Regions from separate parts of the Homo sapiens genome. Here region 2 is linked to region 1. The links come from fine-mapping of genetic effects on gene expression. A gene starts in region 1. The other region holds a variant in brackets. All regions are shown on one strand. Distances are between the middles of the regions.

Region 1 (4,000 bases):
TTCCTCTGATACCCAGTGTTGTACCCCCAAGAGAGTGTTTCTCAAAGTGTGACTTCAGATTGTCTGCATTCGAATTGCTTGTGGTATTTATTAAAATTATAACTCCTGGGCCCTGCCCCACCCCTACTAAATCACAATTTCAGGAGGAGGGACCTTCATTTTAACACTCACCCAGGTGATTTTTATGCTCCGAGGAGGTCCAGGGACTCCAAGTTAAGTACGGTACTGCTGTCTTATTCTTTATTCTAAATTTTAAGGTCTGCACAAATTGGTTGAACTAATGAGAAGAAAATTCAGCTTTAAAGCAGAAACACAGGTAGACGGTTGACAGAGTTCATCAAATGGATAATTGAAAATGTCCTCTGGACCCTAGCCATATAAGTTCTCTTCAAGGGTCTTGGCTACAGGCAAATGAGAACCCGAAAGGCTATTTGCTCTTTTGCTGCGGGCAGTGGTGGGGGTGGAGGGCGGGGGAGGATTAACTGAGCCAGTTCTGCCCCCACCCTCGAATCACCTACCCCCACTCTGGTTAAAGCAGAAGACTTTTTATTTATCTTGGCTGCCCTGGTTCGTTATTAAAAGGGTTAGCTTATACGTGTGTTTGCTGGGGCTGGAAGTGAAAACATCTGCAAAAGCATGCAATGCCCTGGAACGGAACTCTTCTAATAAAAGATGTATCATTTTAAATGCGCTGAATTTTGATTCTGGTAATTCGTGCACTAGAGTGTCTATTTCGAGGCAGCGGAGGTATCATATGACAGCGCACGTCAAGGCACCGTGGAGCCCTCTCGTGGACTCCCACCCACTTTCCCATTCACCGCGGAGAGGGCTGCTCTCGCTGCCGCTCCCCCCGGCGAACTAGCATGAAATCTCCCTGCCTCTGCCGAGATCAAATGGAGCTTCTCGCTGATGGGGTGCGAGTATTACCTCCGCCATGCAATTTCCACTATCAATAATTTAACTTCTTTGCTGCAGAACAGAAGGAGTACATACCGGGCACCAAAGACTCGCGCCCCCTCCCCCCTTTAATTAAGCGAAGGGAACGTGAAAAAATAATAGAGTGTGGGAGTTTTGGGGCCGAAGTCTTTCCCGGAGCAGCTGCCTTGATGGTTACTTTGACAAGTAGTGACTGAAAAGGTGGGTTTGTTTTCTTTCTTTCTCTTTCCGTTTTTCTGTTTGGTCGGCTAGAAAGCGTGTGGCTTTAGCGAGGTCTGTCATTGCCTGGGCTTCCTGGCTGGAACAAGTAACTTGGTGTAACGTTATCTGGGGGCGTTCATCAATAAAAAATGCTGTTATTATCTTGATTGAATTCCTATTAGGCAAACTCTAGAGAGGTCAGTGCGCGAACTCTGTTTAAGCCGGCGTGTTTAAGGCAGCAGAGTAAACCAATAGCCCCCATGCTCTGTGCGATTTCATTGTGTGCTCGCGTTCGCAAGCTCCGTAGTGCAGGAAGGTGCGGGAAGGTGTGTCTGTGGCCCGGGAAACGCACGCCCTCTCCCAGAGAACTTGGGTGCTGGGATGGGGAGGAAGGGGAGAGTTGAAAGCTAGGGGAGCGAGACCTCGGGGCGTGCGATTCTCACTCGCTCCCTCCCGCCCCAGCGCCCACAGCCGGGGTTTCTGCAGAGGGCGCGGGACGCGGGGTTCCCCGGGGCTGAGGCTGGGGCTGGAACACCCCTCGAAGCCGCGGGCGTCCTGTCCAAGGCGCCCCAGGAGGGCGCAGGACTCGCAGGGCGATGTCGCGGGGCCCTAGGGGAGGAGGTGAGGACAGGCCCCGGGGGAGCGGGGAGTTCCGGGCGCCCCTCGGTTCCCCGCGCGAGGAAAAGACGCGGCGTTCCCTTTAAGCGGCCGCCTCGAACGGGTATCGGTAGCGCGGGCGAGCGGGGAGCGGGGGGCGGGGGGCGGGGGGGGGGGGGCGGCGCCGTTTGACCAATCGAAGCTCAACCGAAGAGCTAAATAATGTCTGACCCGGGCGCAAGGCGCAGCCTGGAGCTCCGGGTCCCCGACGCTGCCGCCGCCGCGCCCGGGCGCACCCGCCCGCTCGCTGTCCCGCGCACCCCGTAGCGCCTCGGGCTCCCGGGCCGGACAGAGGAGCCAGCCCGGTGCGCCCCTCCACCTCCTGCTCGGGGGGCTTTAATGAGACACCCACCGCTGCTGTGGGGCCGGCGGGGAGCAGCACCGCGACGGGGACCGGGGCTGGGCGCTGGAGCCAGAATCGGAACCACGATGTGACTCCGCCGCCGGGGACCCGTGAGGTTTGTGTGGACCCCGAGGTAGGCAAGCGCTGGGAATGGGGCTTGGTGCAGGAGCTGCCCGTCCGCGGGAGAGAGTTGACTGGGGGATCCCCCACCCCAAAGTTGTGGGACGAGGCCAGTCTCCTTCTTTCCTCCCCTCCGGTAGAAGGGACGATTTGGAGTTACTCTTGGGGAGTTTTCTCCCCCATCCCACAACCCAGAAGGTCAGCCGGCACCACCAGGGAAAAAGGGACCCGGGGAAGTCACGAAGTAGAGGAGGGAAGGCCTGGAGGAGACCCAGAGCTGCGTGATGGGAGCAAAGACGGCGACCCGGGGATCCCTCGCAGCCCTCCCCCAGCCCAGGAGTAGTCGAGAGAGACTTAGGGGGCCAGAGCTGTCGAGGGTCCTGACTGAGGGGAGGGTGCTGGGGCTAGGCTAGGAATCCTTCCAGGGGGTGGGTGGTCCCCGCGCCGACTTGCGGGGGGAGTGGGAGGGAAGCTTGCGCCTTCAGCCCGCATCCCTTCCCCGGAGCTGCACACGGCTACCTGCTCCCCAGGAATTGAGACTGAAGTGGACTTACAAGTCCGAAGCCAATGTAGCTTGGAAAACTTGGGAGGCGGAATTCCTACCGCTGGGAACTGAAAGGGTCTGCGACACTCTCGGGCAGGCCGAACCCACATCTCTACCCATCCTGCGCCCCTCTTCTGAAGCGCCCTCCAGGGAAGTTAAGAGTTTTGACTTTCGGGGAGTGGTTGGGATGTACGTGGGGGATTCTTGACTCGGGTTAGTCTCTGGGGATGCAGAGCCGGGAAGAGGAATGGGTGAGTGAGTTACTCCTGGAAAGAAATAGCTGAGGATTGGGGGCTCTGTGCCTGACGGGCAAGAAGAAGGGGAGATTACAGACTAGGGGCATCCCTAAGGAAGAAGCCTCGGGGCTGCGAGGGTGAACTGGAGGATGCAGTGTTTGTGTGTTGGGGGTAGAGCGGGGATGAGGGACCGGGGTGGAGGGGAGGCGAGGAGGAGGAGGGGACCCAGAGAACGAAGCTAGGGAAGGTAGAGGGTGCCCTCTGCCGGCCATGCTGCCAAGAGCAGCTACTGGGGGCGGGAGGCTGGGGGTGGGGAAGTGGTAAAGGAAGGTTTTGCGGGATCCCTTAGAGAGCTGGTAGGAGGGACTTGTTGAATGGTGCTGCTGACTCCAGCTCGGTGGGGCGTGCGACTCGTCGTCGGTGGATTTTGACTCCTCGTTCTTGTTTGGCTTCTATGCAAGTTTTCCTCGCGCTGGGGGAGCTTTGATAAGCCTCGATTGGCGGTGTGTTAGGGCTTCTTGGATCTTATTTTAGGGTCCTCTAGTTATCCTGCACTTACTCCTTAATGTCAGTAGCAACCAAAGAACATTTTCCGACAAGCACGCAGGAATGTTCTTGGCCAGAAGCAAAGAAAGGCATATTTCTGAGTGTTTATTAATCCTCCTAGTAATCTTTTAAAGCAAAGTAATATGTAATTGGGAACGTTGATTTTCTAACTGCATATAAAAGGCGACATGATATTAAATGAGACCCCTCCCTACTGACTCAATATCCTGCAAAATCTCTCTCTCCCCTTTATTATTATGGAAAAATCTATTTTTATATGAGTTTGTTGTAAGGTCAAAAGCCATTTTGGTCTTACAATTTGATATGTCTTTACATTTTAACTTATTGAGGCATAATTACAGATTTAATTTGTATGAACGTGTGTGCCTTCAATGCTTATCTCATGCAACATAATTT
Region 2 (4,522 bases), 45 kb after region 1:
GTTAAAAAAAATAATAAATTGCATGCTGCTTTAATTGTGAATTGATAATAAACTGTCCTCTTTCAGAAAACAGAAAAAAAACACACACACACACAACAAAAATTTGAACCAAAACATTCCGTTTACATTTTAGACAGTAAGTATCTTCGTTCTTGTTAGTACTATATCTGTTTTACTGCTTTTAACTTCTGATAGCGTTGGAATTAAAACAATGTCAAGGTGCTGTTGTCATTGCTTTACTGGCTTAGGGGATGGGGGATGGGGGGTATATTTTTGTTTGTTTTGTGTTTTTTTTTCGTTTGTTTGTTTTGTTTTTTAGTTCCCACAGGGAGTAGAGATGGGGAAAGAATTCCTACAATATATATTCTGGCTGATAAAAGATACATTTGTATGTTGTGAAGATGTTTGCAATATCGATCAGATGACTAGAAAGTGAATAAAAATTAAGGCAACTGAACAAAAAAATGCTCACACTCCACATCCCGTGATGCACCTCCCAGGCCCCGCTCATTCTTTGGGCGTTGGTCAGAGTAAGCTGCTTTTGACGGAAGGACCTATGTTTGCTCAGAACACATTCTTTCCCCCCCTCCCCCTCTGGTCTCCTCTTTGTTTTGTTTTAAGGAAGAAAAATCAGTTGCGCGTTCTGAAATATTTTACCACTGCTGTGAACAAGTGAACACATTGTGTCACATCATGACACTCGTATAAGCATGGAGAACAGTGATTTTTTTTTAGAACAGAAAACAACAAAAAATAACCCCAAAATGAAGATTATTTTTTATGAGGAGTGAACATTTGGGTAAATCATGGCTAAGCTTAAAAAAAACTCATGGTGAGGCTTAACAATGTCTTGTAAGCAAAAGGTAGAGCCCTGTATCAACCCAGAAACACCTAGATCAGAACAGGAATCCACATTGCCAGTGACATGAGACTGAACAGCCAAATGGAGGCTATGTGGAGTTGGCATTGCATTTACCGGCAGTGCGGGAGGAATTTCTGAGTGGCCATCCCAAGGTCTAGGTGGAGGTGGGGCATGGTATTTGAGACATTCCAAAACGAAGGCCTCTGAAGGACCCTTCAGAGGTGGCTCTGGAATGACATGTGTCAAGCTGCTTGGACCTCGTGCTTTAAGTGCCTACATTATCTAACTGTGCTCAAGAGGTTCTCGACTGGAGGACCACACTCAAGCCGACTTATGCCCACCATCCCACCTCTGGATAATTTTGCATAAAATTGGATTAGCCTGGAGCAGGTTGGGAGCCAAATGTGGCATTTGTGATCATGAGATTGATGCAATGAGATAGAAGATGTTTGCTACCTGAACACTTATTGCTTTGAAACTAGACTTGAGGAAACCAGGGTTTATCTTTTGAGAACTTTTGGTAAGGGAAAAGGGAACAGGAAAAGAAACCCCAAACTCAGGCCGAATGATCAAGGGGACCCATAGGAAATCTTGTCCAGAGACAAGACTTCGGGAAGGTGTCTGGACATTCAGAACACCAAGACTTGAAGGTGCCTTGCTCAATGGAAGAGGCCAGGACAGAGCTGACAAAATTTTGCTCCCCAGTGAAGGCCACAGCAACCTTCTGCCCATCCTGTCTGTTCATGGAGAGGGTCCCTGCCTCACCTCTGCCATTTTGGGTTAGGAGAAGTCAAGTTGGGAGCCTGAAATAGTGGTTCTTGGAAAAATGGATCCCCAGTGAAAACTAGAGCTCTAAGCCCATTCAGCCCATTTCACACCTGAAAATGTTAGTGATCACCACTTGGACCAGCATCCTTAAGTATCAGAAAGCCCCAAGCAATTGCTGCATCTTAGTAGGGTGAGGGATAAGCAAAAGAGGATGTTCACCATAACCCAGGAATGAAGATACCATCAGCAAAGAATTTCAATTTGTTCAGTCTTTCATTTAGAGCTAGTCTTTCACAGTACCATCTGAATACCTCTTTGAAAGAAGGAAGACTTTACGTAGTGTAGATTTGTTTTGTGTTGTTTGAAAATATTATCTTTGTAATTATTTTTAATATGTAAGGAATGCTTGGAATATCTGCT[G/A]TATGTCAACTTTATGCAGCTTCCTTTTGAGGGACAAATTTAAAACAAACAACCCCCCATCACAAACTTAAAGGATTGCAAGGGCCAGATCTGTTAAGTGGTTTCATAGGAGACACATCCAGCAATTGTGTGGTCAGTGGCTCTTTTACCCAATAAGATACATCACAGTCACATGCTTGATGGTTTATGTTGACCTAAGATTTATTTTGTTAAAATCTCTCTCTGTTGTGTTCGTTCTTGTTCTGTTTTGTTTTGTTTTTTAAAGTCTTGCTGTGGTCTCTTTGTGGCAGAAGTGTTTCATGCATGGCAGCAGGCCTGTTGCTTTTTTATGGCGATTCCCATTGAAAATGTAAGTAAATGTCTGTGGCCTTGTTCTCTCTATGGTAAAGATATTATTCACCATGTAAAACAAAAAACAATATTTATTGTATTTTAGTATATTTATATAATTATGTTATTGAAAAAAATTGGCATTAAAACTTAACCGCATCAGAAGCCTATTGTAAATACAAGTTCTATTTAAGTGTACTAATTAACATATAATATATGTTTTAAATATAGAATTTTTAATGTTTTTAAATATATTTTCAAAGTACATAAAATCTGGGGGTTCTGGGTTTTTTTCTCTTTACTGTAAAACAAACATGAAAACGTGTTTTATTATAAATACGTGTGTTCCTTGCTTTAAGACTAATCTGACTAGTTTTAGTAATTAAACAGCCCTCCAGAGAGGATACTTATTTGAAAGCCTGGGAGGCCAATCCTGCAGTCTGTGAGCTTCTGAGAAGTTGTAGGATTGGATCTGTCTTCCATGGTGGAAGATGGGAGTGTCATTTTCTCGGACACTTGAAAGTTTTACCCCTTTGAAGTGATATACTTTCATCAGATACCAAACCATGTATCCTAGCAACATCAGGATCCACGAATCACGGCTGGCTGGCTGGCTCTATTTGACTATAAAATAACTGTTAAAAAAAATCAAAGTAGGTTTACTTAGGGATAATGAGAATAAATTGGCCCAAATTTAGAAAGTCAAGTACTGGGGAAAAAAGTAAAAAAAGAAATTCAATATTTGGAGACAGGTCACATATCCTCGGTTTGGAAGTGGTGCCATTTGCAGTATGTATTTGTATCCATAGCACTGATTTAATTTTTGTACGTGGAGCACACAGATTTTATATCATAGTACCCACAATCTAACAGATTGCTAGGATTTCTAAAAGGATTTGCCTCCGTGATGGCTGCCAAGCCGCTGGGTAATTTAGTTAAAGTGTTTAAAGTTATCACTAAATCTTAGGGAAATAAATGGAAGGATTTTAAATCAGAGAAGGGGCCATTAAGGAAAAAAAGCATCTGTTCTTACTCTTCAGCCTCCCCATTTGAACACTGACAACCCATCCCATAACGTGGTGAACTATATCTGTGCAATGTATCATTTCTATTTCTAAACATACACACATGGTTTCCTCTTGTATTGTCTTATAAATAAGGATCAGGAAAGTCATAACAAACATTGACTTGTGTTGTGTATATGGAAAAACAGATCGAATGAGATGAATTACTCTATCCTAATCTGTCCAGTGAACTTGAAAAGTACTCTAAGAGAAGCCCTTGACTGCCAGTCATGACAGCCCAGCCATGGACTTAGAACTTTGATAAACTTCAGGCTTGACCAATTTTCATAGTCAGAGGACTAAAATATTTTTTAAATGGTTGAGTAAAAAAAGTAAAAATTAAACATGACATCCAAATTACTTGAAGTTAAACGAGTTTGGTAAACATGACTGAAAGTTTTCATTAGAAGATGAGGTTGGAGAAAAAAACAAAATAGAGACATCTACTAAATTATCCTACTTGGAGTTAATAGGAGTAACCAATGTGTACTGCATTCATTGAGTAAGCAGTTAAACTTGTTTAATTACTAAGATGCCAGGAAATAACTCAGATCATTGCTTTGATCTGTTGTTTTTCACCATACTGATAAGCCTCTGTGGTCATTAGCTGTGTCTATGAAATCTTTTTATGAGCTGTACTAATTCAGTGAATAATAAGACAGTTCGAAATGAGAATCTGAACTAAGTCTTAGAATGGGTCAGTGTTAAATTGTTCCTCATTCATTTAAGTGACTTCTAGATCTGGATAAAATGTCAAACACTTTTTGAACTGCAACAAATGGCTTCAGGCATTGCCTCAGTTCAGCCAGCACTCCCAATAGTGTTAAGGTTTAAGGTTATTGTAAAACATACTTGTCTCCATCATGTTCTAACATCAAGCCTGGTCTACAAGTTAAAGTAGAAATGGCTGCATATTTTGATAAGCCATTGTTAAATAAAGACTGTTAATTGGGATAAGAAACAATATACGTGTACATAAATTTAGGAAGATGAAGCATTTAGCTTGCAAAAAGCCATTCACAGATTTGATCCAACCTCAGAATGTTGACCAGCAAAATTAGTATTTTATGGAACATAG

Direction of the effects. Alleles are on the strand shown, and positions count from the first base shown. SD is a standard deviation of normalised expression in the study named.
For the expression in left ventricle of the gene that starts at base 1,979 in region 1, allele A in region 2 goes with a lower level than allele G (small effect, 0.23 SD a copy in GTEx).

What was found. PIP is the estimated chance that this variant, and not a neighbour inherited with it, causes the effect.
Region 2: its variant is the best candidate, but not a certain one, in a credible set for the expression of BDNF in left ventricle (GTEx, PIP 0.55).

The regions. Positions count from the first base shown.
Region 1 is chr11:27,698,434-27,702,433 of GRCh38, reverse strand. BDNF (brain derived neurotrophic factor) reads left to right here and starts at 1,979. Exons shown (of 2, transcript NM_001709.5): 1 at 1,979-2,270.
Region 2 is chr11:27,653,023-27,657,544 of GRCh38, reverse strand. It overlaps BDNF (brain derived neurotrophic factor), which reads left to right. Exons shown (of 2, transcript NM_001709.5): 2 at 1-2,652. The region is part of intron 3 of BDNF-AS (BDNF antisense RNA); the gene reads right to left. Among named protein-coding and RNA genes, the nearest start is that of LINC00678, 21 kb to the right of the region's middle. The variant G/A (reference allele first, on the strand shown) is at 2,051.